Linked DNA regions of Homo sapiens. The protein of the gene in region 1 purifies or fractionates together with the protein of each later gene. This does not show direct contact. Each region holds a gene or a part of one and is shown in the gene's direction. Other genes may lie near its edges.

The links.
Region 2: the proteins of LRRC23 (region 1) and MTO1 purify together in Homo sapiens (affinity purification with mass spectrometry; one large-scale study listed by BioGRID and IntAct). This does not show direct contact.
Region 3: the proteins of LRRC23 (region 1) and GUF1 purify together in Homo sapiens (affinity purification with mass spectrometry; one large-scale study listed by BioGRID and IntAct). This does not show direct contact.
Region 4: the proteins of LRRC23 (region 1) and SUGT1 purify together in Homo sapiens (affinity purification with mass spectrometry; one large-scale study listed by BioGRID and IntAct). This does not show direct contact.
Region 5: the proteins of LRRC23 (region 1) and GATB purify together in Homo sapiens (affinity purification with mass spectrometry; one large-scale study listed by BioGRID and IntAct). This does not show direct contact.

Annotation. Positions count from the first base shown.
Region 1 is NC_000012.12:6,906,509-6,912,655, forward strand, and holds part of LRRC23 (leucine-rich repeat-containing protein 23), read left to right. Parts: coding exon 1-154; intron 155-806; coding exon 807-937; intron 938-3,381; coding exon 3,382-3,518; intron 3,519-6,147. UniProt on the Homo sapiens protein: Essential for sperm motility and male fertility. Plays an important role in the proper assembly of the third radial spoke (RS3) head and the bridge structure between RS2 and RS3 in the sperm flagella.
Region 2 is NC_000006.12:73,470,397-73,476,589, forward strand, and holds part of MTO1 (5-taurinomethyluridine-[tRNA] synthase subunit MTO1, mitochondrial), read left to right. Parts: intron 1-2,968; coding exon 2,969-3,258; intron 3,259-6,193. UniProt on the Homo sapiens protein: Component of the GTPBP3-MTO1 complex that catalyzes the 5-taurinomethyluridine (taum(5)U) modification at the 34th wobble position (U34) of mitochondrial tRNAs (mt-tRNAs), which plays a role in mt-tRNA decoding and mitochondrial translation.
Region 3 is NC_000004.12:44,686,563-44,692,755, forward strand, and holds part of GUF1 (translation factor GUF1, mitochondrial), read left to right. Parts: coding exon 1-151; intron 152-1,444; coding exon 1,445-1,584; intron 1,585-2,723; coding exon 2,724-2,847; exon of another isoform or gene 2,848-2,848; intron 2,849-3,280; coding exon 3,281-3,413; intron 3,414-4,154; coding exon 4,155-4,298; intron 4,299-5,103; coding exon 5,104-5,237; intron 5,238-6,193. UniProt on the Homo sapiens protein: Promotes mitochondrial protein synthesis. May act as a fidelity factor of the translation reaction, by catalyzing a one-codon backward translocation of tRNAs on improperly translocated ribosomes. Binds to mitochondrial ribosomes in a GTP-dependent manner.
Region 4 is NC_000013.11:52,679,162-52,685,354, forward strand, and holds part of SUGT1 (protein SGT1 homolog), read left to right. Parts: intron 1-812; coding exon 813-994; intron 995-6,193. UniProt on the Homo sapiens protein: May play a role in ubiquitination and subsequent proteasomal degradation of target proteins.
Region 5 is NC_000004.12:151,704,529-151,710,721, reverse strand, and holds part of GATB (glutamyl-tRNA(Gln) amidotransferase subunit B, mitochondrial isoform 1 precursor), read left to right. Parts: intron 1-2,620; coding exon 2,621-2,734; intron 2,735-5,452; coding exon 5,453-5,537; intron 5,538-6,193. UniProt on the Homo sapiens protein: Allows the formation of correctly charged Gln-tRNA(Gln) through the transamidation of misacylated Glu-tRNA(Gln) in the mitochondria. The reaction takes place in the presence of glutamine and ATP through an activated gamma-phospho-Glu-tRNA(Gln).

The DNA of each region.
Region 1 (6,147 bases):
ACCCACCTGCTCTGGCTCAAGGCTGATGGCAATCGGCTGCGAAGTGCCCAGATGAATGAACTGCCCTACCTGCAGATTGCTAGTTTTGCTTATAACCAGATTACTGACACTGAAGGCATCTCTCATCCTCGTCTTGAAACCCTGAATCTCAAAGGTGGGTCTTTAGGATGGGCTACACAAGATTCTTTCCTTCCTAGCCTGAGGCCAACAGAAGTGGGCAGTATGGTCCTTGGCTAGGGCACATGGCAGTCTGCATTCATTCATTCATTCAGATACGCAATATGATTCATTATGACAGTTCTACATGCTAACCATATAGGATCCAATAAGACAAGGAACGTCCCTATTCTCATATAGCTTATATTCTAATTGGGAGAGACAAACAAGTAACAACAAACACAGTAAGTACATTCATGTAGCATGTTAAAAGGAGACAAGTGCCTTGGAAAAAATAGATCAGAGTAAGAGGAATGGGGGACACAGGTGGCAATGTCAAATAGATTGGTTAGGACAACCATCACTGAGAAGATGACATTTGAGCAAAGAATTGAAGAAGGAGAGGGAATTAGACATGTCAGCTGCTTCATTCACTCTTCAAAGGCTTAGGTGGATATGTCCATCAGGACCTTGGACTACCTACCACACCACTTGCCTCAGGGCTCCAGAGGTATTAAGTCTGGAGCTGGCCTTCCTCAGTATCTACCCTGCTTTGCGAATGGTAGGATGATTTAGAGGCTCCCCAAATTCAGGCTCTAATGCTGAGCATTTGGAGTGGCCCTTTGAGCTCTTGAAACCCTCCTCCCCAGGGAACAGCATCCACATGGTGACAGGTCTGGACCCCGAGAAGTTGATCAGCCTGCACACAGTGGAGCTTCGGGGGAACCAGCTGGAAAGCACCCTGGGAATCAATCTTCCTAAGCTGAAGAACCTCTACCTGGTAGCTCACTGGGTCAGAGGGTGGTGCAGGGAAGAGGGCACTGTCCTGGGGGTCAGGATGCCTGCTTTCTAGTAGGCTCAGCTACTAACTTCATCATTATGATAATAACTGGTATTATTATCAAGACCATAGTTGGTTCCAGATGCTGTGGAGATACACAGCCACCTAGCAGGGCTGATAATATATAATGTGTGGATAATACAGAGATAATTTACCTTGATACAGGTAGTAGCAAAATGGACCATAATTGAGGTACAAACATCAGTCTGTGGAAATGTTTTAGGAAAACCCTCCTCTCAGACTGGGTTTTTCTTCAGCTCTTACACTACCACCACAACAATCATCAACATACGACTTCCGGGACCAAAGGTGTGGGGGTTTCTCCCCATACACCAAGTAGTAGACACCAGCTGGGTGATCTCTAATTCGATTCACTGTCTACCTGGGGATGGCATCAAATCCCACAGATTGAGGGCTCGGTTCCCAAGAGTGACCCCTACACCGCCCACATACACCAGTTGCAAGTCCAAGCCTCCAGAACTTCTGACACACCAGCTTCAACATGAAGCTGGTTCCCATGACCTCTTCTCTGGATTTAATTAATTTTCTAGAGTGGTTTTTATTAGTTTATTGCAAGGGCAAAGGATACAGATGAAGAGATGCTTAGGGCGAAGTATGGGGATATGGGTGCAGTGCTCCATGCCCTTCCCAGATGCATCACCCTCCAAAAGCTTTCACGTGTTCAGCTACCCAGAAGCTCTCTGGACCCAGTCCTCTTGGCTTTTCATGGAAGCTTCATGATCTTAGTATTCCTTCCCCCAGGAAACTGGGGAGGCTGTCGCTGGGGAGGGTCTTAAGAACCACAATCAGGCCGGGCGCGGTGGCTCATGTCTGTAATCCCAGCACTTTGGGAGGCTGAGGCGGGCGGATCACCTGAGGTCCGGAGTTCGAAACCAGCCTGGCCAACATGGCGAAACTCTGTCTCTACTAAAAATACAAAAATTAGCCCAGTGTGCTGACATGCGCCTGTAATCCCAGCTACTAGGGAGGCTGAGGCAGCAGAATGGCTTGAACCCAGAAGGCAGAGTTTGCAGTGAGCTGAGATCACGCCACTGCAATCCAGCCTGGGAGACAGAGCAAGACTCCATCTCAAAAAAAAAAAAAAAAAAAAAAAACCAAAGAAAAACACGGTGAAACCCCGTCTCTACTAAAAATACAAAAAAAAAAAATTAGCTGCGTGTGGTGGCAGGCACCTGTAGTCCCAGCTACTCGGGAGGCTGAGGCAGGAGAATGGCGTGAACCCAGGAGGCGGGGCTTGCAGTGAGCCGAGATTGCGCCACTGCACTCCAGCCTGGGCAACAGAGCTAGACTCTGTTTCAAAAAAAAAAAAAGAAAGAATCACAGTCAGAAAGAGGGAGTGGGGGGAAAGATTAGCGCTTTCTCTTGGAGCAGGTGAAAAGACGGCTGGAGAAGTTCCTGAGACCTGCCCCTGAGGCCCAGCACACCCAACTTTATAACAAAAGACTGCAAGAAGGGCTATTATGGGGGTTATAAGCTAGGGACTGTGGATGAAAACCGATATATATATTATATATTATATAATTATATATTATATATAAATATATATTATATATTATATAATTATATATTATATATAATATATAATTACATATAATATATAATATATAATTATATATTATATATTATATATTATATATAAAATATATAATATATAATTATATATTATATATAATATATAATTATATATAATATATATAATTAGATATAATATATAATTATATATTATATATAATTATATATAATATATTATATATAATTATATATAATACATAAATATATATAATAGTATATATTATATATAATATATATAATATATAAATATATATAATAGTATATTATATATAATATATTTTATATAATATATAAATATTATATATAATAGTATATTATATATAATATATAAATATTATATATAATAGTATATAATATATAATATATAATATATATTTTATATATTATATAATATATTATATATTATATATATAATAACTCCACAGGAAGCCACTGAAATATTTAGTCTTTTAGACTCTTAAGCTTCGTTATTCTGGGATGGTGCTGATGCCAATCCTCAGTGGTGGCCTGGGGGCTCCTGGGCCGGGTAGGGGTGGGTTGAAGCATCTCCTCCATCCCAAGTGGCTTTGATGGGGCGAATGGTAGAGGGTTACTGCTGACCTTTCTCTGGGATGGCAGCTTCTCCTGAACTTCTTTACTTTCTATACTGATCTCTACTCACCCCCACTCCTTTCTTCCACTCCTCCCTCTCTACCTCTTGGATTTCCTCTTTTGCTTTATCTCATTCTGACTTCTCTTTCTTCCCTATCCCTGCTCCCTCTCAATCAATCCACTGTGCCCTGGGGGTCTAGGCCCAAAACATGCTGAAGAAGGTGGAAGGCTTGGAGGATCTGAGCAATCTCACCACCTTGCATCTTCGAGACAACCAGATTGACACCCTGAGTGGCTTCTCCAGAGAAATGAAATCATTGCAGTACCTCAACCTGAGGTATGCACCCTCTCCAAGCCCCACCTTGCCCCTACCCCTGACCAGGTGCAGCTTTTGAGTCTGTGTTCTTCCCTGGCCCAATCCCCCAGTCCTAGCCCACAGCTGGATTCTCAAGGAAAGCCCGGCTTTCCTTCCTTTCTTCTGCACTGAGTTGCAACACTAAATCCCTTATAGCTTGTGACCCCTGAATTTTTATTCATTCAATCCACAATTATTGAGAATGTGCTATGTGCCAGGCCTTGTGCTGTGTTTTGGGGACATTTAAAGCAATCAGAGGCTGGGCATGGTGGTTCATGCCTGTACTCCCAGCACTTTAGGAGGAAGGATCACTTGAGGCCAGGAGTTCAGGACCAGCCTGGGCAACCTAGTGAGACCATGTTTCTACAGAAGTGAAAATAATGGCCCGGCATGGTGGCTCACACCTGTAGTTCTAGCACTTTGGGAAGCCGAAGTGGGCAGATCGTTGGAGCCTAGGAGTTCAAGACCAGTCTGGGCAACATGGCAAAATCCCATCTCTACCAAAAATACAAAAATTAGCCAGGCATGGTGACAGGCACCTGTAATCCCAGCTACTCAGGAGACTTAGGCGGGAGGATCGCTGGAGCCTCGAGGTGGAGTTTGCAGTGAGCTGAGATAAAGCCGCTGCACTCCAGCCTGGGTGACAGAGCCAGACCCTGCCTCAAAAACAAAACAAAAATAAAATATTAAATAAAAATTAAAATATTAAATTAAAAATAAAAATTAACTGAGCCTGGTGGTGCACACCTGTGGTTTCAGCTACTCAGGAGGCTGAGGTTGGAGGATCACTTGAGCCCAGGAGTTCAAGGTTGCAGTGAGCCATGATTGTGCCACTGCACTCCAGCCTGGGTGACAGAGTGAGCTGTCTCTAAAAGAAAGAAAGGAATCAGAGGTGATTCCTGTTCCTAAGGGGCTCACAGTCTGGCTCCAACTCTTTTTTCCTCACCCTATCCTATATAAGTTTCCACTGCCCTTCTCCATTTCCTCGGTCCCAATTCACCTTCCCATTTCCTGCCTCTCTTCTCCTGAGCCCCACCTGTAAGGGATGACCTTTTTACTGATTAAAAAAACACAAGATGTGCTCAGATTTGAGGAGAGAAGGACATTTGTAAGAAAATCTTTTGGTAGAAAGGCACTGAAGATCAGCAACTCTTGTCGGATGGAGGACTTTATGTGTGTTTATTTCAGCAAACATGTAAGGAAACTGCCTCTTTCCTTAGTCAACAAGACCAGATTCTTGAGCTGGTAATGGAAAGAGCATCTCCAAGTAGGGAGAGGTGGTTGCATCTGGAAGCCCCAACTCTCATCCTGACCCCCTGGGCATTCTCTTATTCATGAACTCTGCCACACGGATCTGGTGGGGTGTGTATCTGTGCCATCTTCCTGTTAATGATCTAGACAGGCATGATGGACCCTTCCTGAGTGGCTATTAAATGGGGATGTTTTGAGAGTAAGTCGGGTGTGTGTGTGGAGGGGGGTGAGGGTGTCTCAATGATTGGCAGGTGCCTCTGGGGCCAGAGATGCTAAGCATCCAACAATGTATGGCAGAGTCCAGTACAAAGTTCCTGTAGCCCTCCTGGTGAGAAACACTGCATGAGGCTCAGCACGACCATGAGATCAGGCTGAAACACTTAAATAGATTTCATAAAAGCTTAAAGCCAGAACATGAAAATAAATAAAATTCCAGGCATGGTGGCTCACGCCTGTAATCCCAGCACTTTGGGGGGGCCAAGGCAAGAGGACTGCTTGAGGCCAGGCGTTCAAGACAAACCTGGGCAACATAGTGAGACCCAGTCTCTACAAAAAATTTAAACATTAGCCAGGTGTGGTGGCACATGCCTGGAGGTACTTAGGAAGCTAAGGTGAGAGGATCACTTGAGCCCAGGAATTCAAGGCTGCAGTGAGCTATGATCATGCCACTGCACCCCCAACCGGGGTGACATAGTGAGACCCTGTCTCAATAAAAATAAAATAAAAACAGAGTATCATATAATGAGGCACATTAGGAGATGAAGTTTATTCTTCAGGTTGGGAGGCTCCAACCCATCCATAGCCTTAGGTTCTCTTTGTGGAGAGCACGAACCGAGCATCCACCACCCTAAACTCCAGCTTAGATCCCAGTTCCTTGTCCACTGACCTAGGTCCTACAGGGTGGAGTGCAGTGGCTCGATCTCGGCTCACTGTAATCTCAAACTCCTGGGGTCAAGCAATCCCTCCTCCTCAGCTAAGTAGCAAGGACTACAGGTGTATGCCATCACGCCCAGCTAATTTTTTTATTTTTAGCTTTTGTACAGATGGGGTCTCGCTATGTTGCCCAGGCTGGGTCCTACCTTCTACCCTCCATTTAGGTGTGATCACAGAAAATGTCTCTCCCTGTGAGGAAAATTTGCCCTCTCCTCCCCAGCTACAAGACAGGGTTGTGGCCTAGCTTTGCTGCACCAAAAGAACACATGAATGTATTACAGAGTAGAATATGGCACTTAGGGATTCCTTGAAGGGCAGAAGCAGGACCAGAGCGGGGTCACACAGCACCTCTGCAGTAAATCTGGCAAGGCTTGGCAGGCCAGTCCTCACAGTGTTTCTAGGGACACTGGAACCCCGAGAGTCCCCC
Region 2 (6,193 bases), on another chromosome or scaffold:
GGGGTTTCACTGTGTTAGCCAGGATGTTCTCGATCTCCTGACCTTGTGGTCCGCCCACCTCGGCCTCCCAAAGTGCTGGGATTACAGGCATGAGCCACCGCGCGTGGCCCAGGAGTGTCATCTTTTAAAATACATATCTTAATTCCCATTTTCATTTTTATTATAGATTTATTAATTTTCTTGATTGGGAAATACATACTTAGGGCCAACAACTTAAAGGCTACAAAAAGCATATAGAGTGAAAAGATAGTCTGTCTTAGCTGGGCATTATGGGCATTATGTGATTATGGCTCACACCTATAATCCCAGCACTTTGGAAGGCCGAGGCAGGTGGATCACCTGAGGTCGGGAGTTTGAGACCAGTCTGGCCAACATGGCGAAACTCGTCTCTACTAAAAATACAAAAATTAGCCAGGCATGATGGCTCACGCCTGTAGTCCCAGCTACTCAGGAGGCTAAGGCAGGAGAATCACTTGAACCTGGGAGATGGAGGTTGCAGTGAGCTGAGATCTTGCTACTGCACTCCAGCCTGGGTGAGAGAGCAAGAGTCTGTCTCAATAGAAAAAAAAAAGATAGTCTGTCTCCTTCACTTTGTCCCCTCAACCAGCCAGTTTTCTTTCTCAGGAGCATTTGCTTTGTTAATCTGTTGTGTGGTCTTTCTACCTAGGCATATGTACATGTCTTCATGCATATGTATATGTATTTTTTGTTGTTTTCACAAAATCGTAGCATATTATACACACTGTTCCTCTGTACCTTTTTTTAAAAAAAAAACTTAATCTGTGTTTGCTTTGCTTTTGGAGGCCATGCTTTTTTTTTTTAAGTTTGTGGGTTTGTTCCGATGGTTACCTTAAAAGCTATGATTTTATATATAATATAATATGCTCACTGACTTCCCTCAAGTAACAATTACTAAATTAGTTTTACTTTCATTTCCTTTTCTCCCCCGACTTTCTTTATTTTCCAGATTTAATGGTTATATTGTTTTTATTAGTATTTATGTTTATACCCTTAAATTGTTTATTTTTTTATTTTTGAGACAAGTTCTCTCCCTCTTTCTTAGGCTGGAGTGCAGTGGCATGATCACAGCTCGCTGTAGCCTCGACCACCTGGACCCAAGTGATCTTCCTGCCTCAGCCTCCTGTGTAGCTGGGACCACAGGCATGTGTCACCACCCCTGGCTAATTTATTATTTTTTTTTGTAGAGATGGGGGTCTCACTATGTTGCCAGGACTGGTCTTGAACCCCAGGGCTCCAGTGATCTTCCTGCCCCAGTCTCTCAAAGTGTTCATATTATAGTCATGAGCCACTGAGCCTGGCCGATTTAATTTAATATCTTTAAATGCTATTTTGTGATCCTGTCCATATTTTATAGGCCCAACAATAACAATTTTTTTGTGGTAAAATATACAAACCATAAAATGTACCATTTTAACCATTTTTAAGTGTACAATTCAGTGCTATTAAGTACATTGACAGTGTTGTGCACCCATCACCACCAACGGTCTCTTGAACTTTTTCATCATCCCAAATTAAAATTCTGTACCCATTAAACAAAAAGTCCCCATTACCTGAAGAATAAACCTCCATTTTACTGTAAGGTAGAGCTATCTGAGGACAAAACCTTAATGTGTAAATTTCAGCTGTTTCTTTCATTTTCTGTTCCAAGTTTCATTTCTACATTCCTCCTCAGTTCTTATTCTCAGTTCTCTAATTTCTGAGCCTTTGCAGGGCAAATTAGTTCATTCTCATTGATATATCTTCTCTTCAGATATTAATACTTAAGTTATAGCTATCTCCCCTCTGCTAGATGAGTTACCATTCTTCCAAACACTTTCTATCTTTCAAAAATACATTGAAATTTCTCATCTTCTGACTGGTTCTTTTTCATTACTTGTCCTTTTGGTTTTATACCTTTTTTATTCCCCTATTTAATTTTCTTTGAGTTTTAGAAGGGAGAAGAAATGAGAGGTTGTATGCCATATTTATCCTGAAGTCTAAAATTAATTAATTTTTTAAATTAATTGAGACTAACTTTTTAGTGCTGATATGATTTTAGGTACATGTGAATTGGTGATAACACATTGTATTCTCTCTCCTAGATTGCTTAGATTGAGATTGATAACATATTAGCCTTCTTACTCATTTAAAATTCTTTGTCTGGGGTAGGGGAAATGGGAAGATACTGCTCAAAGGTTATACATTTTCAGCTGTAAGTTGAATAAGTTCTAGCAATCTAGTGAGCAGTATGGTAACTGCAGTTAATAATAATGTATGATATACTTGAAATTTGCTAAGGGAGTAGATCATAAGTGTTCTCACCACACAAAACGTGTAACTATGTGAGGTGATGGTTATATTAATTAGCTTGATTATGGGTATCATCACAGAAGGTATACTTGTATCAAAACACCATGTTGCATACTCTAAATATATACAGTTTTTTATATGTCTGTTATATGTCGATAAGTCTTGAAAAAACAAAAATATTAAAAAAGATTCTCAAGTTTTTAAAGACTGATAGTTTTTCTGTAGTTGTAATGTAAAATAGTCACATTCCATTTTGATCCATGGTAACAATTTAAAAAATGACTTTAGGCCGGGCGCGGTGGCTCACGCCTGTAAGTAATCCCAGCGCTTTGGGAGGCAGAGGTGGGTGGATCACCTGAGGTCGGGAATTCGAGACCAGCCTGACCAACATGGAGAAACCCCATCTCTACTAAAAATATAAAACTAGCTGAGCGTGGTGGCGCATGCCTGTAATCTCAGCTACTCGGGAGGCTGAGGCAGGAGAATTGCTTGAACCCGGGAGGCGGAGGTTGCAGTGAGCGGACATTGCACCACTGCCCTCCAGCCTGGCGATAGAGTGAGACTTCATCTCAGATAGATAGATAGATAGATAGATACATAGATACATAAATACATAGATACATAGATAATGACTTTATTCTTTTTTCTTGTTATTTAGTGGATGGAAGCACAGTATATGCAGAGAGTGTGATTCTGACTACTGGGACATTTCTGAGAGGCATGATTGTAATTGGATTGGAGACGCATCCAGCAGGACGTTTAGGGGATCAGCCTTCTATAGGATTGGCTCAGACACTGGAGAAGTTAGGGTTTGTGGTGGGAAGGTTGAAGACTGGGACTCCACCCCGAATTGCCAAAGAGTCCATTAATTTCAGTATTCTAAACAAGCATATACCGGACAATCCATCCATACCATTCAGCTTTACCAATGAGACAGTATGGATTAAGGTAAGATACTTTACGAAAACCTGGCTTACAGCTGGTATTGGCTATTCACAGCAGGAAGTACTGTAACTTTTTTTTTTTTTTTTTGGCAGCAGTTCACTTTATAGCACTATTGCTTATAGTGCAAAGAAATGATTTTTTTTTTTTTTTTTTGAGATAAGGTCTCACCTTGTCACCCAGGCTGGAGTGCAGTGGTACAATTATGGGTCACTACAGCCTTGACCTCCTGGGCTCAAGTGATCCTCCCACCTCAACCCCCTTGAGTAGCTGAGACCATAGGCATGAGCCATTGTGCCTGGCTTTTTAAAATTTTTTTGAGAAATGGGGTTTCACTATGTTGCCCAGGCTGGTCTCGAACTCCTGGGCTCAAAGGATCCACCCCCCTTGGCCTCCCAAAGTGCTGGGATTGCAGGTGTAAACCACCGAACCCAGCCAAAGAAGTTATCCTTTTTTTTTTTTGTGGTGGAGACTTGCTCTGTCACCCAGACTGGAGAGCAGTGGCACGATCTCAGCTCACTGCAACGTCTGCCTCCTGGGTTCAAGCAGTTCTTCTGCCTCAGCCTCCCGAGTATACAGGCACGCGCCACCACACCCGGCTAATTTTTATATTTTTAATAGAGACAGTGTTTCACCATATTGGCCAGGCTGGTCTCGAACTCCTGACCTCGTGATCCACCCATTTCAGCCTCTCAAAGTGCTGGGATTATAGGCGTCAGCCACTGCACTCAGCCTAAAGAAGTAATCTCTAAAAGGGATTAGCTAACTTGGCTAATTGGGTATTTCCCCATAAATCGTAAATTTCTTTTTTTTGTTTTTTTGAGACAGTCTCAGTCTGTCGCCCTGCTGGAGCGCAATGGTGAAATCTTGGTGCACTGCAACTTCCGCATCCTGGGTTCAAGCGATTCTCCCACCTCAGCCTCCCTAGTAGCTGGGATTGCAAGCACCCGCCATCATGCCTGGCTAATTTTTATAGTTTTGTAGAGACGGGGTTTCACCATGTTGGCCAGGCTGGTTTTGAACTCCTGACCTTAGGTGATCCGCCTGCCTCAACCTCCCAAAGTGCTGGTGCTGGGATTACAGATGTGAGCCACTGCACCCGACTTTTTTTTTTTTCTTTTTTTGAGACGGAGTTTCGCCATTGTTGCCCAGGCTGGAGTGCAATGGCGCAATCTCGGCTTACTGCAACCTCCGCCTCCCAGGTTCAAGCAATTCTCCTGCCTCAGCCTCCTGAGTAGCTGGGATTACAGGCTCCTGCCGCCACACTGGCTAATTTTTGTATTTTTAATAGAGACGGTGTTTTGCCATGTTGGCCGGGCTGGTTTCAAACTCCTTACCTTAGGTAATCCACCCTCCTCAGCCTCCCAAAGTGCTAGCATTACAGGCGTGAGCCACCGTGCCTGGCAAATCTTAAATTTCATTACTTTTATAACCTTACATATTTTGTAAATTAAGCTTTTATTTTAAAAAATTTTTTCATTTATTATTATTTTTAATAGAGACAGGGTCTCGCCATATTGCCCAGGCTGGTCTCGTACTCCTGAGCTCAAGCCATCCGCCCACCTCAGCCTCTCAAAGTGCTGGGATTACAGGCATGAGCGACCGCACCTGGTCAAATAGGCGTTTTTTGTTTTGTTTTGTTTTGCTTTTTGAGATGGAGATTCAGTCTTGTTGCCCAACCTGTGGTGCAATGGCACGATCTCAGCTCACTGCAGCCTCCGCCCCCTGGGTTCAAGCAATTCTCCTGCCTCAGCCTCCCTAGTAGCTGGGATTACAGGTGCCCGCCGCCATGCCCAGCTAATTTGTTTTTGCATTTTTAGTAGAGACAGGGTTTCACCATGTTGATCAGGCTGGTCTTGAACTCTTTTTTTTTTTTTTTCTTTGAGATGGCATTTCACTCTTGTTGCCCAGGCTGGAACGCAACAGCACAATCTCGGCTCACTGCAACATCCACCTCACGGGTTCGAGCAATTCTCCCGCCTCAGTCTCTTAAGTAGCTGGGATTACAGGCATGTGCCACCACACCTGGCTAATTTTGTATTTTTAGTAGATGGGGTTTCTCCATGTTGGTCAGGCTGGTCACGAGCTCCCGACCTCAGGTGATCCGCCCGCCTCGGCCTCCCAAAGTGTTGGGATTACAGGTGTGAGCCATCGCACCCAACTGGTCTCAAACTCTTGACCTCAGGTGATCCACCTTCAGCCTCCCAAAATGCTGGGATTACAGGCGTAAGCCACCATGCCCGGCCTAAATTAAGCTTTTGAAACGATATCAGGTGGTGCTGCTGGAAAGGCAGCCGCCCCCTTGCCCATTACACAATGCATTTTTATGGAGAACCCGACACTGAACCATTCTTAGATGACCTGCTTCTGGGGTGGGATTTCAGACATAGCAGAGCAACTTCCTCGCTGCGATCTATTGAAAGTTAACCCTCAGCTGGGCGTGGTGGCTCATGCCTGTAATCCCAACAGTTTGGGAGGCTGAGGCAGGTGGATCACTTGAGGTCAGGAGTTCAAGACCAGTCTGGCCAACATGGTGAAACTCCATCCCTACTAAAAATAAAAAAAAAATAAAAAAATTAGCCAGGCATGGTGGCTCATGCCTGTAATCCCAGCTACTCGGGAGGCTGAGGCAGGAAAATTGCTCGAACCTGGGAGGCAGAGGTTGCAGTTAGCTGTGATTGTGCCACTGCACTCCAGCCTCCAGCCTGGGCAACAGCAAGACTCCATCTCAAAAAAAAAAAAAAAAAAAGAAAGTTAACCCTCAACGCATATAATTTTATTTTAAAAAGACGGAGAAAAACAAAAAAAAGTAAGCAACATCGAGAAAAAGTTGTAAGACTTTTCTCAATGTAAGAGTTTTTTCACAACAAACTCCTATAAACCATTGAACGTCACTCACTGTTAATATTTTACCATATTTATCGCTATAGATATATCAATT
Region 3 (6,193 bases), on another chromosome or scaffold:
TTGACCAGTATAGAGGTGTGATAGCCAATGTAGCATTATTTGACGGAGTGGTTTCCAAAGGAGATAAAATTGTATCTGCACATACTCAAAAGACATACGAAGTTAATGAAGTAGGAGTCTTGAATCCTAATGAGCAGCCAACTCATAAATTGTAAGTAATCTGCATTAGTAAAATTAAAATGCATTTGTATGTGGTTCTATTTCTGCATTTTTCTCAACTTGGTATGCTTAGAATGATCCTCATTTGGTAACTTAAAAAAAACTATTTAATGCAACTATACAGTAAATGCTCTGTCAAGGAATCTCATGGGAAGGACAATAGAAACGTCAGTTGATACTTTTTTTATTCTAAATGACTAGTTATAACTAGATTTATGATCAAGGGTAGATTGGATCCTATATCGATGTATTTGATGAGACAATGAAAGAGTTAGTTCCCTCCACCCATATCCATATTAGGTATCATTTTTGACATTTCTTCATAACTAGATTTTCCAATGTAAAGGTGGTATAATAGAAACCTTAATAAATCTTTAGTGTGGAATTCATGGTAAAACCTTGATTAAAATTCTTGGGGAGTAGGATTAGCAAGGGTAGTGTGCATTAGAAAAACATCTGAATTGACTTGTAAAAGAACTATTTATTGAGTGCCTACTCCGTATCAGGTACTGATGAGGCATGACCTTGGGTACATAATTTGAGCTTTGTAAGGTCCTGTTCCTTGTCTGTAGAAATTATTGAACCAGATGACTGTCAGATCACATTTGAGTGTTTAGTGTTATATGTCTAAAAACAGCACTATATTGAGTCAGAAAGTCTATTTTTATTTTACTGAAATATTTTAACATCTATTTATATTCTGCCATATATACCAAACATTATCACATCTTCATTTAAGGTTCTTAAAGCTCATTCTAAGTGTAAATCATTTTAGTTTTGTAGGGATTTTTTTTTTTAACTAAGCTTAAACTGAACTCATAGGATTTGCTCTTTTGCTACAGGAGGAATATCAAGTGTCCAGTTTGTTGAGAGTTCACATTTTTCTTGGATAAAAATTTACCTTTTTTTCCTTTGTTAAAGAACATTTTCAACACAATTCATTAATAAAAGACATCACAAGTGTACTTATTATAATGCTTTTGTACTTACTAGTTTCACTGTATTTACATATATTTTAGAAACTGCTGTTTAAATTGCAAAGGTTGGCAGAATCATGAAAAAGGCATTAGGTTTATAAGTAGAGAGGTCTAATGGATTGTAAGACCTGGTGTGTTCATTTGCTGACAAGCTTCAGAGTTTGATAATTGATATGTAGCACTTATTTTCAAAGTGTATGGAAAGTTTGGAAAGTGTATGATAGTTTCCTGGGAAGGTAGAACTAATTGTGAGTTATGTGCTTGAAACATTAAAGCAGTAAATATTTGCATATAATAATTTTATTTAGATATGCAGGACAGGTGGGCTATCTGATTGCTGGGATGAAAGATGTCACTGAAGCGCAAATAGGAGATACATTATGTTTACATAAGCAACCAGTGGAGCCCTTGCCTGGGTTTAAATCAGCGAAACCAATGGTATTTGCAGGTGAGGAGTTCACAAATTCAAAGGTTGAGGGCCATGATATTTTTAAACTAAAAGTCTGTCTCAGTGGTTAAGGAAAAAATACACATTCTGGTTATTTTAAATAACCACTAATTCCAGCATATTGTTTCACTTTGTGCTGTTTATCAGTTTATAATTACATATGTGTGATGAAATTATATGTGGGAGATCATTTAGGATGTGTTAAGAAATAAGTTCTTGAGGAAGAAGCTGTGATATATAGGATACAGTAATATAAATTTCTTTCTTATTTTTCTAGGGAGTTCATTATTATATTTGAAACATTTTTCTAATTAGGATGTTCTTATTAGTAATTATCAGTAGACACTGACTGAGTGCCTTCATCTTCGATAGACTTTCTTTAATATTGTACTGTACTAATGTAGATATGACAGAATGGTGTTGCCTCAAGTACGTATAATTTCAGAATCTTTTACTTCATTTACTTTGGAAAAAGGAAGACCTGATTGAAGGTCATCAGGTTACTCTGTGCTGAGTATCTAGCCCTTAATTTTTGCCCTACAGTCTCTCTCACTGGGAATTAGGAACTTTGTTTACCCCTACCTTTAGGCAAAGTCAGTCATGTGGATTTTAGAGGACTTCAGAGGTGTCAGATGAAAGAGAATCAGTAGTGATTCCCATAGTTTTTGTCAGTAAATACCAAAAAGCAAAATTTAACTATGGTTTTAAGTAGATAATCTGCCTTAGAGAATTGAGAGTGCAGTATAGTTTTCATGTCTACTTCTATTTTTATCCAATAATAAAGTTTCATTTGGGTTGTGGAATGTCTTGTGCTTTTGTTTTTGAAATTACACTGTGTTTTCTTAATAGGCCTAATTCCCATGTTTTTTTTTTTCTTTTCCCTGTATTTTTTCAAAAACATTAAAAACATTATTTGGAGTGCAAATCTAGTTGTATATTCTTTCAGACTAATGACTTGTAAGATACTTTGAAACCAAATAATCATTCATTTTTAGCAAACCAATATTTTGGTCAATAAAATACAAGAAAGTAATTTAAAAGGTAAATGACTAATTTGGAACTTGGCAGCACTACACATGTGGTTTGATAGGTCTGTAGGCAGCTTATCACGTGATAATTAGAAATCATTGTATCCCCAGGAATGTATCCTCTAGACCAATCTGAATATAACAATCTGAAGAGTGCTATAGAAAAACTGACTTTAAATGATTCCAGTGTGACCGTTCATCGGGATAGTAGCCTTGCTCTGGGTGCTGGCTGGAGGTAAGATTCATTCACATGTGTTTTATAGGAAAGGGAGGTGTAAATGGTGTATTTTAAAAATATTTTTATAGGAAAGGGAGGTTTTTAAAAAATATCTTTATAAGTAAGGGAGGTATAAAATGGTGCATTGTTCTGGAACATTTACTGAAAATAAGTTTATATTAGTGTAAAGTGAACGAAAACAATTTTTATCTGCCTGTTTCACGTTGCGGATTGACATTTTATGGGTAAGTTTTATAGTGATTTAAAATAGATTCCCAATGGAAGATTTTAATCTTATTTAATAAAATTATGCTAGCATTTAATTATATTGTGAATTGTTTGAATGACTTAATTCCATCCCTCCCTTAAAGTAACAATATGTTCATTAAAAAAAAAAAAAATGAAGCCCATGGGACATAAACATTTTGGAGTTTGTCTTTTCCTCCCCCAGGCTAGGATTTCTTGGACTTTTGCACATGGAAGTTTTCAACCAGCGACTGGAGCAAGAATATAATGCTTCTGTTATTTTAACAACCCCTACTGTTCCATATAAAGCTGTACTGTCATCATCAAAATTGATAAAGGTACTTGGTATTTAGTACTGGTATTTAGTACTGTTTTGCATTAGTCTCTTGGAAAAAATAAATGTGTGTATATACAATGCAGGAGAAGCTTTTTACTATACCAATAGCTGATTAAGTATTAAACAAAATATTTATTGATTAGTAGTAATAAACATTGAATTACCCTATGGCTAATGATGAAGAACTTTTTTGAAAACTAATTTATGCAATATTTTTCTTAACCTGATGTAATCTCCAGATTATCAAAACTAGTCTATTGCTGATAGTAAAAGGTAAAATTAGTAGTGAAAATAATGTTCTGATTCTAGCACAAAGATGAAAAATGTAATTTTGGTCATAAGTAATTTATCTCGTAAAAAGTGAAGCATTCATTCTGGTGACTGGGAAATTTTAAATTTCAAATCAGTGATGAAGACAGTATTGTATTCCATGTAAGTGGCAATCTGTTCATTTTAAACAAATACTAATTTTGGCAATCTAAATATTTTCCAACAAAATTAACTTATTAGACTATAATGTTTTATAAGTGTCAGGTTAAAGTGTATTCTTTTGTCATACTTCTTCTAAATGGTCCATGAAATATGTTTAGTAAATATCAATAATTGGAATATATTGTTTACTAATACTTGTTATTAATATTAAATGATTACAGCTGGAGGGATTTTAAAATATAAGGCAAACAAGAAAAATGATAATCATTATATTAAGATTTTAAGTATTGCTGATTTTTCTAATTTTTAGGAACATAGAGAAAAAGAAATTACAATTATCAATCCTGCACAATTCCCCGATAAATCAAAAGTAACAGAATATTTGGAGCCAGTTGTTTTGGGCACTATTATCACACCAGATGAATACACTGGAAAAATAATGATGCTTTGCGAGGTATAACTATAATACAATTTAATACAAAATTAGGTTTTAGTCCTCTGAAATAGTGATTTCCAACTCAGGTTTTAAAAGATTTCTTTCTGCTGAGCATACTGAATTTAATGAGATTTTCATATATATATCTGTCTATATCTATACACATAGATATGTATACTTTTTAAATTATTTTGATTTTAAATAAAAATATTTCTGATAATTTGTGTAATTTACTGATTTGATATGTTAGCCCAAAGGAAAGAAATTTGATAATTAGCTAAATGTATAATTTCGCCTTTTTGAGTAGTTTGAAAGATAATTATAGTACTTCAGGGACCATAAATTTGAAGGTACTCCCATTTTGCTTTAGTTCTCACCACATTGTAATAAATGATTTAATCCACAAATGGTATGTAATTATATTCCTTAAAAATACCTATGTGAAATACTCTGATACATATTGGAAAGTGTGTCAAATGGTGACTGAGCTTTGATTAGGTTAAAAACTAGATTGTAATCTTGGTCTTAACTTTTAATTTCTCTGGACCTAATTATTTGTAAAACAAGAAATTAGGACTTTTGACTTTATATGTAGTTACATTTGATTTACTGTTAAATGAAATAGTGTTCATTTTAAAAGATAAAATTGTTAGATAAAGATTAAAAGCTTTGGTAGCAAGCCTAATGCAATTGAAATATAAAATGTTTCTCTCTGGATTATAAATACTGCCTATAAGTTTTTACTAGACCTTTAGAGAAATACATCATTCCTCAGTATTTGAGTAGGTTATCATTAAACCCATTTTCTTCCTTCCCTTTTTAGGCTCGAAGAGCAGTTCAGAAGAATATGATATTTATTGATCAAAATAGAGTTATGCTTAAATATCTCTTTCCTTTGAATGAAATTGTGGTAGATTTTTATGACTCTTTGAAATCCCTATCTTCTGGATATGCTAGGTAAAAAAATAATGAGAACCTAAGATGCCTGACCAACTTTTTTGAAATATTGATGAGCAAGGGTATACTAATTCTTCATTTATTTAGTAATTTCAGCTTTCTTGAAGATAGTTGAGAATCATACTCTAAGGTTAGAATGACTTGGAACAACTTTATAGGTGTTACAGACTACTTGTGATTTGCTTATAGGAGAAAAGTTTCCTTTGATTTATTATCTAACTTTTATTTCTCTTTTAACAAAAAAAGTTAGTCCCCTTTTCATGAAGAGCTGTATTCCTTGTCTGTTAAGAATTAGACCTAATTTCAAAAATTTACCATAACCTCAGTGGCACTTTTAAAATGTATATTTATGTTATGCAATCTCAAGAGCATCTATTTACATTTGAAAAATAAAAGTGCATATTCAGTCTGTAAAAAATGTTAGATGTGCCGCTCCATTAGTGAACACTTTAATAACTTAGTCTTTTGAGGAACAGGTTGTCCTCATCACGAAAACCTTTGTGTATCTCATAGGAGTACATGGAGAAAAGCCAGATAAAAGTGAAAGGAGAGTTACTATTAAATAACAAATAAGAAACTCAGGGCATAGCATTCTGAGAGGCTGTTTTTTGTTGTTGTTGTTGTTGTTGGGGCATATAACTCTAGATACCCTCACTATGCCCTAAAATCTTATGTTACGGGATAGTATATATAGAAAACAGATGTGAAACATGGGGAAGCAGGAGGGGAAAAATGAACATTGACATCTATAAAACTCCCACACAGTGCATGAATGTTAATGTTAACATGCAGAGACAAATTCCAGTGTTTAACAAACATGCTACAGTGACTTGGAAGTTTAACTTTATTTAATCATCTTGTCAGTGAAGAGAGTTAGCATATATAATTCTTCTTACCAAGGAATCTTCATGTTCCTTTGTATTGAGAATTTTCTTCTACTTTGTCACCCAGTTTTT
Region 4 (6,193 bases), on another chromosome or scaffold:
CTCCTATAGCTACTAGGTTGTCTAGTTATTTTCTAATTATTTGTGTGCCAAGATCTTGATGCCTTTGGTCTTTGGAGCAATCTTGGCAGTACCCCGAGCCCCTGGGCCAGTAGCCTCTCTCGCTGCAAGCAGCTCTGTTTACTCCAGTGTGCCCTACAAATACTATTATTTGCTAGGTGTATGGGATGTGGGCATTGAACTTTAGATCATCAAGTGTAGTACTTTAAACATTTAGAAATTACTTACTGTTATTGCCTATTAAAATAATCTTACTTTTTTGATGGGAGAGTATGGAGTGGCATGGATGATTATTTATATTTTCAGGCTATTTATACTCTGAAAGATACTAAGTACTTTAGAAAAAGTCACATTTTTAACATTTATTAAAATCTTAGTTACAAAAGATTTCTTAGGCATCCTTTAAAAAATTTCATTTTTAGAATTGTTCGTACTGTCTCTGCAACTTTTCTGAAAACATAAAAGTTCTGTATACTTTTCATCTAGTTTCTGTTATCAACATGAAGAATCTGCTTTTAATCTAATTTTGTATAGCATATCAAAAGTTTACACTTTATTGAGTTATTTTGCTCAAAAGAAATCCCCAGATTTTACATTATGGTAACTGACTCAGTTTTTAGAAATGTGAATTTTGTTATTGACCTATATACCAGAAAGACACTTATTGCATACCTGAAATTCAGTAACCTAAACTGTTTGCTAAGATGTTCCATATACATGGTCACAAAGTTTACATATTCTCGACATAATTGAAACATGTTGATTAATTACTTCTGCCTTTTTTTACTTCATAGATGTAAAGAACCTATATCCATCATCATCTCCTTATACAAGAAATTGGGATAAATTGGTTGGTGAGATCAAAGAAGAAGAAAAGAATGAAAAGTTGGAGGGAGATGCAGCTTTAAACAGATTATTTCAGCAGATCTATTCAGATGGTTCTGATGAAGTGAAACGTGCCATGAACAAATCCTTTGTAAGAATATAAACTTAAAGAAATATATATGGGAGCAAATTTTACATATTTTAAACGAGAAAATTGGTAATGTGAGACCAAATTGCGTGTACTATAGCTGGGAGAACTTTTTGAATAAGGTCTGTCTGAACGTTTCTTTTTGCTCTAAGAGTAATTTTTGAGGAAGTTGAAAACTTATGGAAGAGATGAGAAACAAGTGGTTTATCTTAAATAGGTATTTTTTATCAGTGAGTTAGATTGATATGGAGTCATCTCACTTGGATTTATCCCAGTAGCTGAGTGAACTTCTGTTGTTTCCCTTCTAGACTCATATGTAGCCTCAGTGTTAGAGATGAAGAATATAGATACGAAACTTTTCAGAATAGTGTTTGCAAGTAGAAGGTGCACGTTATTCATTGGTTTAACAACTCTCTTGATTAAGAAAATTCAGGCTTTTTGTCAGGGCAGCATAAATACCTAAATTAGACCTCAAAATTTTAGTAATAATTCGTCATTGTATATTTAGCTTGCAGTTGTAATCATGTGACTTTTATTAATACCAGTAGCTCTGGAAATATGACTCTTTTAAGACATATTTACAGTAGAAAGTTAAAATTAGTATTTTAATTTAATATTTAGTTAATGTGGTTGAGGCTTAGGTATTTCACACTTAAGAAATCTGTGGTAATTGGTCATGATTGTGCTTTTCACAGTTTATTTATTTAGAGACAAGGTCTCACTCTGTTGCCCAGGCTTGAGTACAGTGGCGTGATCTCGGCTCACTGCAGCCTCTGTCTGCCGGGCTCAAGTGATTTTCCTACCTCAGCCTCTGCAGTAGCTGGGACTATAGACATGCACCACCACGCCTGGCTACTTTATTTCTTGTAGAGGTGGGGTTGCGCCACGTTGCCCAGGCTGGTCTCGAACTCCTGGCTTCAAGCAATCTAGCCGCCTCAGCCTCCCAAAGTGCTGGGATTACAGGCGTGAGGCACCTCAACCAGCCTCACTATTGATTAAAAAATTTTTTTTCATCACTTTTGGGAGACTGAGGTGGGAGGATCACTTGAGCTAAAGATCTTGAGATTAGCCTGGGCAACATAGAGAGACCCTATCTCTACAAAAAAAAAAAAAAAATTAGCTAGGCCTGGTGGCATGTGTCTGTGGTCTTAGCTACTTGGGAAGGTGAGGTGGGAGGATCTCTTGAGCCTGGGTGGTCAAGGTTGCAGTGAGCTGTTTTTTTGTGCCACTGAACTACAGCCTGGGCAACAGAGACCCTGTCTCAAAAAAAAAAAAAAAGTCTTCATTAAACTTTTAGTTTTGAGATAATTGTAGATTGACATGCAATCCTAAGAAATGAGATTCTTTGTACCTTTTACAAAGTTTCCATTGATGGAAACATTTTGTCAAAACTATGCTACAACATCACAACCATGATACTGACAGTTAAGATAGGGAACCTTTAATCCCAGTGCTTTGGGAGTCTGAGGCCACAGGATCCCTTGAGGCTAGACCAGCCTGGACAATATGGTAAGTTCTGGTCTCTACAAGAAATTTAAAAGCTACCTTGGCATGATGTTGTGCCCCTGTCAGCTCAGGCGTCTGCGGCAAGAGTATTGTTTGAGCCCAGGAGTTCAAGGTTGCAGTGAGCTATGATCGTGCCACTACACTTAGCTTGGGCAGCAAAGTGAGACCCTATCTCTTTAAAAAAAAAAAAAAGAGAGAGAGAGAGATAGAACATTTTCATGGATTCCAAGGATCCCTTATGTTGCTATCTTATGGCCATACTAACCCCACCCCCACCCTTCCATGATCCCTGATGATCACAAATCTGGCAATCTTTGTCAGATATGTAGTTTACACATATTTTCTCCCAGTATGTAGTTTTCATTTTCTTAATAGGGTCTTTCATAGAACCAAAATATTTCATTTTGATTAAGTCTAATTTACCGCTTTTTATGGATCATGCTTTTAGTTTCAGGTCTTATTAACTCTTTGCCTAGTCCTAGATCTCAAAGACTCTCTCCTATTTAAAAAATAAATAAAAGTAATATTGTTTTACATATTACATTTATTTTTTATTTAGAGACAGGGTCTCATTCTGTCACCCAGGCTGAAGTACAGTGGCACAGTCACAGTTCACTGTAACCTCAAAGTCCTGGGCTCAAGTGATCCTTATGCCTCAGCCTCCCAAGTAGATGGGACTACACATCCATGCTGCCATGCCTGGCTAATTTTTAAAATTTTTTGTAGAGGTGGGGGTGTCTCCGTATTGCTTAGGGTGGTCTCGAACTTCTGACCTCAAGCAGTCCTTCGGCCTTGGCTTCCTGAAGTGCTAGAGTTACAGGCGTGAGCCACAGCACCTGGCCTACATATTACATTTAAGTCTGTGATGCATTTTGAATTTTTATGTCAAGTGTGAGATTTAACTTGAGGTTCCTTTTTGTGGGGTGGATAGTATGTTCGGGTGTTCTGGCACCTATCTTTTCTCATTGAATTGCTTTTGCACCTTTCTTAAAAATCAGTTGAGCGTATTTGTGTGAGTCTATTTCTAAGTTCCCCACTGTGTTAGATTGAGCTGTATGTGATCTATATGTATGTTCCTCTGTCAGTCCCACTGTCTTAAGCTGTAGCTGTTTAAGTCTGAAATTGGGCAGACTCATTCCTCCTACTTTATCCTTTATTTTCACAATTGTTTTTAGATATTCTAACTCATTTGTCTTTCCATGTAAATTTTAGAATAAAGTGATTATATATAATTTTGGTGTTCATTACTAGAATCTAGACATACAGTTAATTTTATGTTTATCTTGTATTCTGTGACATTGCTGGACTCAGTTCTAGGAGTATTTTTGGATAGATTGTCATTTTTTTAATGTGGACAATCATCTTCAAATATGGAGGTTTTATTTATCTGCAGATACGGAGAGTTTTATTTCTCCCTTTTCTATCTGTATGCCTTTTATCTCCTTTTCTTGCTATATTTCACTGGCTGCAACTTCCGCACTGTGTTGAATAAGAGTAGTGAGAGTGGACATCCTTGCCTTGTTTCCCATTTTAAGGGAAAAGTATCTGTTGTTTCATCATTAAGTATAATGTTAACTGTAAATTTTTGGTAGATGATCTTTGTCAAGTTATGAAAGTTCTGTTGTATTCCTATTTTTCTGAAATTTTTTTATCATTAACTTTCAATATTAACTTTTTGTCAGATGTTTTGTCTGTGTTGATTGATAGGATTATATGATTTTTCTTCCTTAGCCTGTTAATATGGTGATTTTATATGATTAATATGATTGATTTTCAAGTATTGAGACAGTCTTGCATGAGCCCTACTTTGTCATATAGTGTATCTCTTAATTCTATCTTCTAATGTTTTGTTATGGGTTATTGTGTCTATATTCATGAGGAATATGAGTCTAATTTTCTTTTTGTGCTATCTTTGGTTTGGCATCAGAGTAATACTTCATAAAATGAATTAGGAAGCATTGCATCCTCTTCTGTTTTTTAGAAGATATTGTGTATAATTGGTGTTAACTTTTCTTAAGTATTTGGTAGAACTCACCAGTGAAACGGTCTGGGCCTGGAGATTTCTTTATTAGGAGATTTACAGTTATGAATTTAGTTAACCTAAAAGTTTTTATAGGACTGTTCCAATTATCTATTTCATATGGGTGACTTGTGGTTTGTTTCTGATAAATTTATCCATTTTGTCCAAGTTGTCAGTGTTTGTATAGTCCCTTATTCTTTTTGTTTTTTGTCTTTTGTTCTTGAGACGGCATTTTTCTATCGCCCAGGCTAGAGTGTAGTAGTGTGATCATAGCTCACTGCAGCCTCAACTTCCCAGGCTCAAGTGATCCTCTCATCTCAGCCTCTCCAGTAGCTGGGACTACAGGCATGTGCCGTCACATCCAACTAATTTATTTTAATTTAATTTAATTTTATTTTATTTTGTAGAGATGGGGTTTTGCCATGTTGCCCAGTCTGGTCTGTAACTCCTGAGCTCAAGCGATCCGCCCACCTTGGCCTCCCAAAGTGCTAGGATTACAGGAGTGAGCCCCCATGCCTGGCCTCCCTACTCTTTTGATGTCTGCAGGGTTTATAGTGATATCTTTTTATCATTCTTATAATAGTAATTTGTGTCTTTTCTCTTTTTTCTTTGTCAGCCTTGCTAGAGGTTTAAAGGACACCTTATCTAGCATATGCTTACCCATTAGCTAGATTTGCTTATGTTATTGAATTTTTTCTTCCAAAGAATTAGCTCTTTGTTTCGTTTTTTCCTCTATTTTTTTGTTCTACATTTTTTTATTCATTTCTATTTTTATTTTCTTCCTTCTGCTTGCTTTAAGGTGCATTTTGTTCTTACTTTTCTAGGTTCTTAAGATGTACATTTGTCTATTATCTATTTCTATCTATTCACTCATTTTTGAGACAGGGTCTCCCTCTGTCGCCCAGAGGGGAGTGCAGTGGTGCGATCGTGGCTCAGTGCAGCCTTGACCTCCTGGGCTCGAGTAATCCTCCTGAGTAGCTGGGATCACAGGCATGCGCCACCATTCTCAGTTAATTTTTTTTTATTTTTTGTAGAGACGAGGCCTCCCCATATTGCCCAGGCTGGTCTTGAACTCTTGAACTCAAGCAGTCCTCCCATGTTGACCTCCCAAAGTGCTGAGATTACAGGCATGAGCCACCACGCCTGGCCTGTTGTCTGAAAGTTTTCTGTTTTCCTAGGCAGCGTCCTTCCCTGATCTCTTGGCAAGAGAGAGCAGGGGTTTGTTGGGACTTTTTTTTTTTTTCCTTGTTTGTGCCCCTTGGTGTTTCCAGCTTCTTCAGCTCCAAGTCTAGGATATATGAGGCAAAAAGAAAACCCAGAATTTGCCACCACGTCATTTCTTGAGTCCCAAGGTCCCTGGTAGGTCTATCTTCACTTTACCTTTTGGTGTCTTTTTTTTTTTTTTCTAGTCAGGGTCTTGCTCTATTGTTCCAGCTGGAATACAGAGGTGCGATCATGAATCATTGCAGCCTTGAACTCCTGAGCTGAAGTGATCCTCCCACCTGAGCCTCCTAAGTAGCTTGCACTATAGGTGTGCACCACCACACCTGGCTATTTTTCTTCTTCTTCTTCTTCTTCTTTTTTTTTTTTTTTTTTTTGTAGAGATAAGGTCTCCTATGTTGCCCAGGCTGTTCTTGAACTCTTGGACTTAAGCAGTCCTCCTGCCTTGTCCTCCC
Region 5 (6,193 bases), on another chromosome or scaffold:
GGACGAAAACTGGGAGCAAAAGGCAGCAGAAGCTGAGCTAGGAAGATAATTCACGAAGGAAGGATTGGTTGGCTTGTCAAATGTTGCTGAGGCGTCCAGTAGGTGAAGACAAGCGTGTCCTGTGTCCGCTGGATATGGCAGCCAGGAGACTGTTGGTGACTCTGACAAGGGCATTTTTAGAGAGATGGGGAGAGAAGCTAGGCTGACGTGGGTTAAGGAATAAATGGGAAGTGAAACAGCGGAGACAGTGTATGCAACAAACAAACAAAACTTGTTTAAGAGGCTTTGCTGAAAAGGAAACCAGAGAAACGATAGATGAGTGACTGATAGAGTGAGAACTGGGTTCAAGGGAATAGGTTTTGGGGTTCTTGTTTGTTCATTTAATAAGAAATACTATTGCATATGTATACGTCAGATGGAATGCTGAGAAAGAGTAATGACTGGTATGGGAGAGAAGGGATAACTGAGAGTGATGCCCTTGAGAAGGCAAGTGGGAGTTAAAATCTGGCTCAGTCCTCAGGGGCCTTTCATTCTGGTCTTAAAGATGGAGGCCAGTGCACAGAAGACTATGGTCATGTACTGAATTCTGTAGTATAGATTATAAGTATTCTGATAGTTTAGGGGACCCACCAGTGCAGGCCAGCTTGCTGAGGAGGGCTTCTAGGAGGAGGCGGTAACACTCAAGTGAGTCCTTGAGGGATGAGGAGAGGGACAGTAGCTCTGATAAAGAGAGCGTGCTGGTGGAGCAGACAGGGTTGTGTATACAGAAGGCTGCCCTGATTGGAGGGGAGCTTTCTCCCGGAATGAGCAGTGGGAACATACAGGTTATGTCGACTGAATCCAGATGACAGCTGTGGAGCACCAAGCAGAGGAGCCCAGATAATCCGGTAGGAGCTGTCTGTGCTGTTGAGTAAACAGCAGGAATGATGAACCCAGACTATATATAGCAGGATGAAAGTTACAGCCACATTGCCAGTCCCTGGACAAGGAGGGAACTGTGTTGAGTCAGGATGTGCTCTTATCACCTAAGCCTAAAGTTCGGAGACCTCGGGCGAGGCACCTTGGGCAAGGGTGGTAGCCATGGAAATGGAAAGGCCGTGACAGACATTAGTGATATTTGACAGCTTCCAAACTGGTAGGGGCTAGTTGCCAGTTTGGATATAAGGGGCAAAGAAAACAGAGAAGTAGAAGATGACCTCAGGGTTCCTAGACCGAGAGTCTCACGGTGTCAGGAATAGTTGGGACTTCCTGAGATGCAGATACACACAACTTGTCAAAAAAGGGATTAAAAATCAGGGGTTACAGAATTCTTGTAAAAGTGTTGAGAAGTCAGTGCTGGAGAGAGTAATGTCTGAGCTAAGAGACATCTTTTCCCTGTCAGCACGGGTGGCAATTGGGCGAGCCCTTCCCTTTCTCTGAGGGTGAGTGGTGAGGTGTCAGCCACGGGCCGCCGGCGACCTCCAGCTTGGTATAGGCCCCACAGCCCAGCACTGGGAGAATGACAGAGAACCAGTTCCAAGGGTCTCCTTTTCTTGACATGGAATTCATTTTGACTACTTTATTATTTTAATATGCTTTTGCTTTGGAATCTTGGGAAATGAATTTATTCAGCCCATCAAGACACTCAGGTTTGGCAGATTACTTTTAATTTAAAAACGTAACTAGGAAAATAAAATCCAGCATTTTGTCTTCTCACTCTGTTCTCTTTTAAATGTTGTAAATGAAACGAGGAACAGAGAATCTGAGAGCTTTACTTTGTAGGGTGCCAAATGTGATTCTTTCTTACCTACATCTATTTGTCTTGGGATTTTTCTCTCTCTCTCTTCCTCAAGAGCCTTTTAGTCCTCCCCACACATTGCCTGCTTCTTTAGGGCTTGTTGCTCCTAATCTGAGGGGCCTCCAGGGTCAAAGAAGGTCCTCCCAGCATGGGGTCAGCACCTCTCTGAGTCCCACCACAGACTCCTGACTTCGTAACAGTGCTGTCTGTCTGCTGTAGCAAATCGTTAGAGCAGTCAGGAAGGATTCGGAGTCATGTTTGTGGAAGGAAGAGATTATTACAGTACCTGGAGGAAGGAGGAGGGGGGAAAGCCCAGATTTCAGTTCTTGCCCTTGAGCTGCAAATTCTCAAGGACTCTCCTCTAAATCTCCTGGAATCACTGTTAGAAATCCACATTCCAATGGAGAGCAGTGTAGGGTTATCAGATATATGAGGCCTTTCCTCCAACTCAGCTCTGACACTTTGAAAAAAAACTTCAGTATAAAACTGCAGAGTCAATCTCCATTTTAATAGTTTTGTTTTTCTTGTTTAGCACAAAAAAATTAGATCTCTCCAGCTGGCGAATCTAAAACTTCTCTTCCATATGTGCATAAGCACACACATCTGTATATGTTCACATGTACAGGCACACACTGTAGATGCCTCAGGACTGTAACCCCTCTCGAGTGGCCAGAAGTACCAGCCACGACCTACTTCAGAACCAACCGTGCCTTCTCTGAAGTTAGGCTGCTATAACTAAACAGCAGGTAGAGTTAGATGCTGCTTCCTTTGACACTCCCTGCCTTTAAAAGACTATGTCACCTCAAAGAATTTCTAAGGAGTTGTTTTCTTCTCTCCTTCCAGAGGGCCAGTTGAGAGTGGATGCCAATATATCCGTGCATCACCCTGGGGAGCCTTTGGGCGTTCGAACGGAAGTGAAGAATCTCAACAGCATCAGGTTCCTGGCCAAAGCCATAGGTGAATGCCAGCTGCCGCTCCTAGTGTCCTTCTTCCTATTGTTTCTCTCTTGCTGGGTAACAAACAACCCAGAAACTTAGTGGCTTACACAAGAACTACTTTCGTTTTCACTGGTCCGTTCTGTTGGTCCTGTGTCGGCTCACTCATGTGGCTGTGGGAAACCGGCAGGCCAGCTGAAGCAGAGGGTCCATGGTAGTCGCTCTCATACCTTGGGGCCTTGATGCTGATGTCTGCTGGGCTTCTCCATCCATGTGATCTTTCTTCATGCACTTGCCTAGCCTTGGCTTTCTTATGAGGCAGTGGGAGCATTTCGGGAGGATGAAGGCAGAAGTGAGTCCTAAGCTGTAGACCTCACACAGTGTCACTTCCAATGTGTTCTATTCAAAGTAGATTGAGGCCAGGCACAGTGCCTCATGCCTATAATCCCAGCACTTTGGGAAGCCAAGGTGGGTGGATTGCTTGAGGCCACGAGTTCAAGACCACCTGGGCAACATAGCAAGACCCCATCTCTATAAAAAATTAAAAATTTAGCCAGGCATGGTGGTGAGCACCTGTAGTCCCAGCTACTCAAGAGGCTGAGGTGGGAGGATCACTTGAGTCCAGGAGTTTGAGGTTGTAGTGAGCTGTGATCACGCCACTGCACTCTAGCCTGGGCGACAGAGCAAGACTCTGTCTCTAAGAAAAAAAAAGAAAATTACATTGAATTCAAAGCAGACTTGAGGGGAAATTAGACTCCACCTCTTTATCAGAGGATCCACAAAAGATCATGGCTGTGTTTTACCATTTACCACCTTCTTTCTGACCAGCTTGAGATTTACTAGGTCATGGTTGTTCATTTTAGATTGACCATGGCTTGACCTAAATGGTCATTATGTTTTCCTGCTTTTTATATTCTTTTTAACTGCTAGATTATGTGCCCATGCAGTGAAGTAGTAGTCTTTCTGGAGCACACACTGTGGGTATTTCTTTGATGATAAATGTATAATAACTAAAATAGTTTAGCAAGATAAATATCTGAGCAGTCCCGTAGATATAGGTAACTGTGAATTCAAGGGGAGGACCTCAGAGGACTAAAAAGATTTTTTAAAACCGAAGCTATCTAGAGAGGAAGAGGGAGGGATGGAGTTTGAAGTGCACCCCTTCAAGGGTGCACAGAGACCAAGACAACTGAATCTGTTGCCAAAGTTTTGCTGTAGCCAAAATGTTTAATAGAGCCCTGGTCTTGTCAAGAAAAGTATTAGAAACAGTACAGAAAAGATGATTCTAGTCTTGTATTAGACCTTATTGTCCTGAACCTGAAGTGAATCAACCACTCAATGAAGACAGTCTTCAGGAAAAAGGCATTAAAGTGGTCAAACGGATAGCTTATGGGAGCAGAGAGGGAAGGGATAGGCTCCTATATGAAGGCAGACTAAAGATGGTGAACTGTTCTGCATCCGGAAAGGGACATAGCCCATGTTCCCAAAGCCATGAAAGGTTTGAGTCAGGGAAAACCCTTATAAGCCAAGTTGGTGAGGAGGAAGCCTGGAACAAATGGAGGAAGTTCCACCTCCCCCTGTAGGTAGTGGGCTGGGACCCGTTATTTTAAGAGGTGGTGATGGTAACCTTAAAAAAGCAGCCCAATTTTAGGTAGAGTCATCCATGAGTTCTGAAGGAGACCCCTAACCTTCTCCTGTCCTATGAAGAACTCTTTGGAGGACCAGTCTGAGGGAGAAATCTCCCTGTGGTCTGACTCAGAGTGGAAGAGCCAAAGCTTTACTATGGGTTCAATTCTCCAAGCCTGTGATTTTTCACCACCTTTTTCTCCCTATGTCAGGCCATTTAGCCATCATCTCGTGTCAACCAAAGAGATCACTGGAGTTGGGGAGAGATGGGGAGCAAAAACTGACACGTTTTGCTGTTGCTGCCTCTTAGCAACTCAGATAAAAGGGTTTAGGTTTGGGCAAGGGAAGGTAGTACATGGTGGGAGGGAGAGTTAAGGTGGAGGCTCAAGATATTTTCATAAAGCAGTTTAGCAGGCTGGGCTTAGTGGCTCATGCCTGTAATCCCAGCACTTTGGGAGGCCAAGGCAGGAGGATTGTTTGAGACCAAGAGATTGAGACTAGGCTGGAAAACATAGTGAGACCCCCATCTCTCAAAAAAAGAAAAAAAAAGCAGCAACAGCTTAGCAATTGTGGTTGTGTTTTGATTCCCACAGCCTCCCTCATTTGATGCTGAGGCATGGGTCCTTGGATCTTAATCATTTGGGGTCGTGGGTCCCTCTGAAAAGATAATGTAAATGCTGGACCCTCTCTCCAAAACCTGCACATATGCACACAACCCACACTTTGTGTATAATTTTGGGGATACCAGAGCCTTTGAAGCCCATCCCAGACTCCCAGGGTAAGGGCCCTGGGTAGGCAGCAATCTCAGACCGAGATATTGGGCCCAGCCCCACTTCTGCCAAGTCATGTCATCTGCATGGGGTTGCTTAATCTCTCTGAACCTGAATTGTCTCAACACGGAGTGAGCCTGCCTTCCTAAGGCCCTTTCCAACACCAATATTCTACGATGGCAGTGAGAAGGAAATATAGTGTGTAAGGGAAGGATTATTATAAACAATCTTCTTGATTTTTTTTTTTTTTAACTTAGAGATTGAGAAAGGTTGTTTCTAATTATTGCTTGACTGGATGAAAGGTATAATCAAAATATGATGCTAAATTAGTGTGTTTTTCCTAGACTATGAAATTCAGAGGCAAATCAATGAACTTGAGAATGGAGGTGAAATTCTGAACGAAACACGCTCATTTCATCACAAGCTGGGGTGAGTTCGCATTGCTGAGCGTCCTGACCACAGCCGGGGGTGGTGCGAGAGGGCTGGGCTCAGCCACTGACCAGCCATGTGACCTTGAAGGAGGCACGTAGCGTCTCCACTTTTAGGTTTCCTCATTAGTACAATTAGAAAAGTACTGTACCCTTCATGCCTGTAATCCCAGCACTTTGGGAGGCAATGGGCAGATCACGAGGTCGGGAGATCGAGACCATCCTGGCTAACATGGTGAAATCCTGTCTCTACTAAAAAAATACAAAAAATTAGCCGGGCATGGTGATGGGTGCCTGTAGTCCCAGCTATTTGGGAGGCTGAGGCAGGAGAATGGCATGAACCCGGGAGGCGGCGCTTGCAGTGAGCTGAGATGTTGCCACCGCACTCCAGCCTGGGCGACAGAGCGAGACTCCTCTCAAAAACAAAAAAGAAGGCCAGGCGCCGTGGCTCACGCCTGTAATCCCAGCACTTTGGGAGGCCGAGGCGGGCGGATCACGAGGTCAGGAGATCGAGACCATCCTGGCTAACATGGTGAAACCCCGTCTCTACTAAAAATACAAAAAATTAGCCAGGTGTGGTGGCGGGCGCCTGTAGTGCCAGCTACTCGGGAGGCTGAGGCAGGAGAATGGCGTAAACCCAGGAGGCGGAGCTTGCAG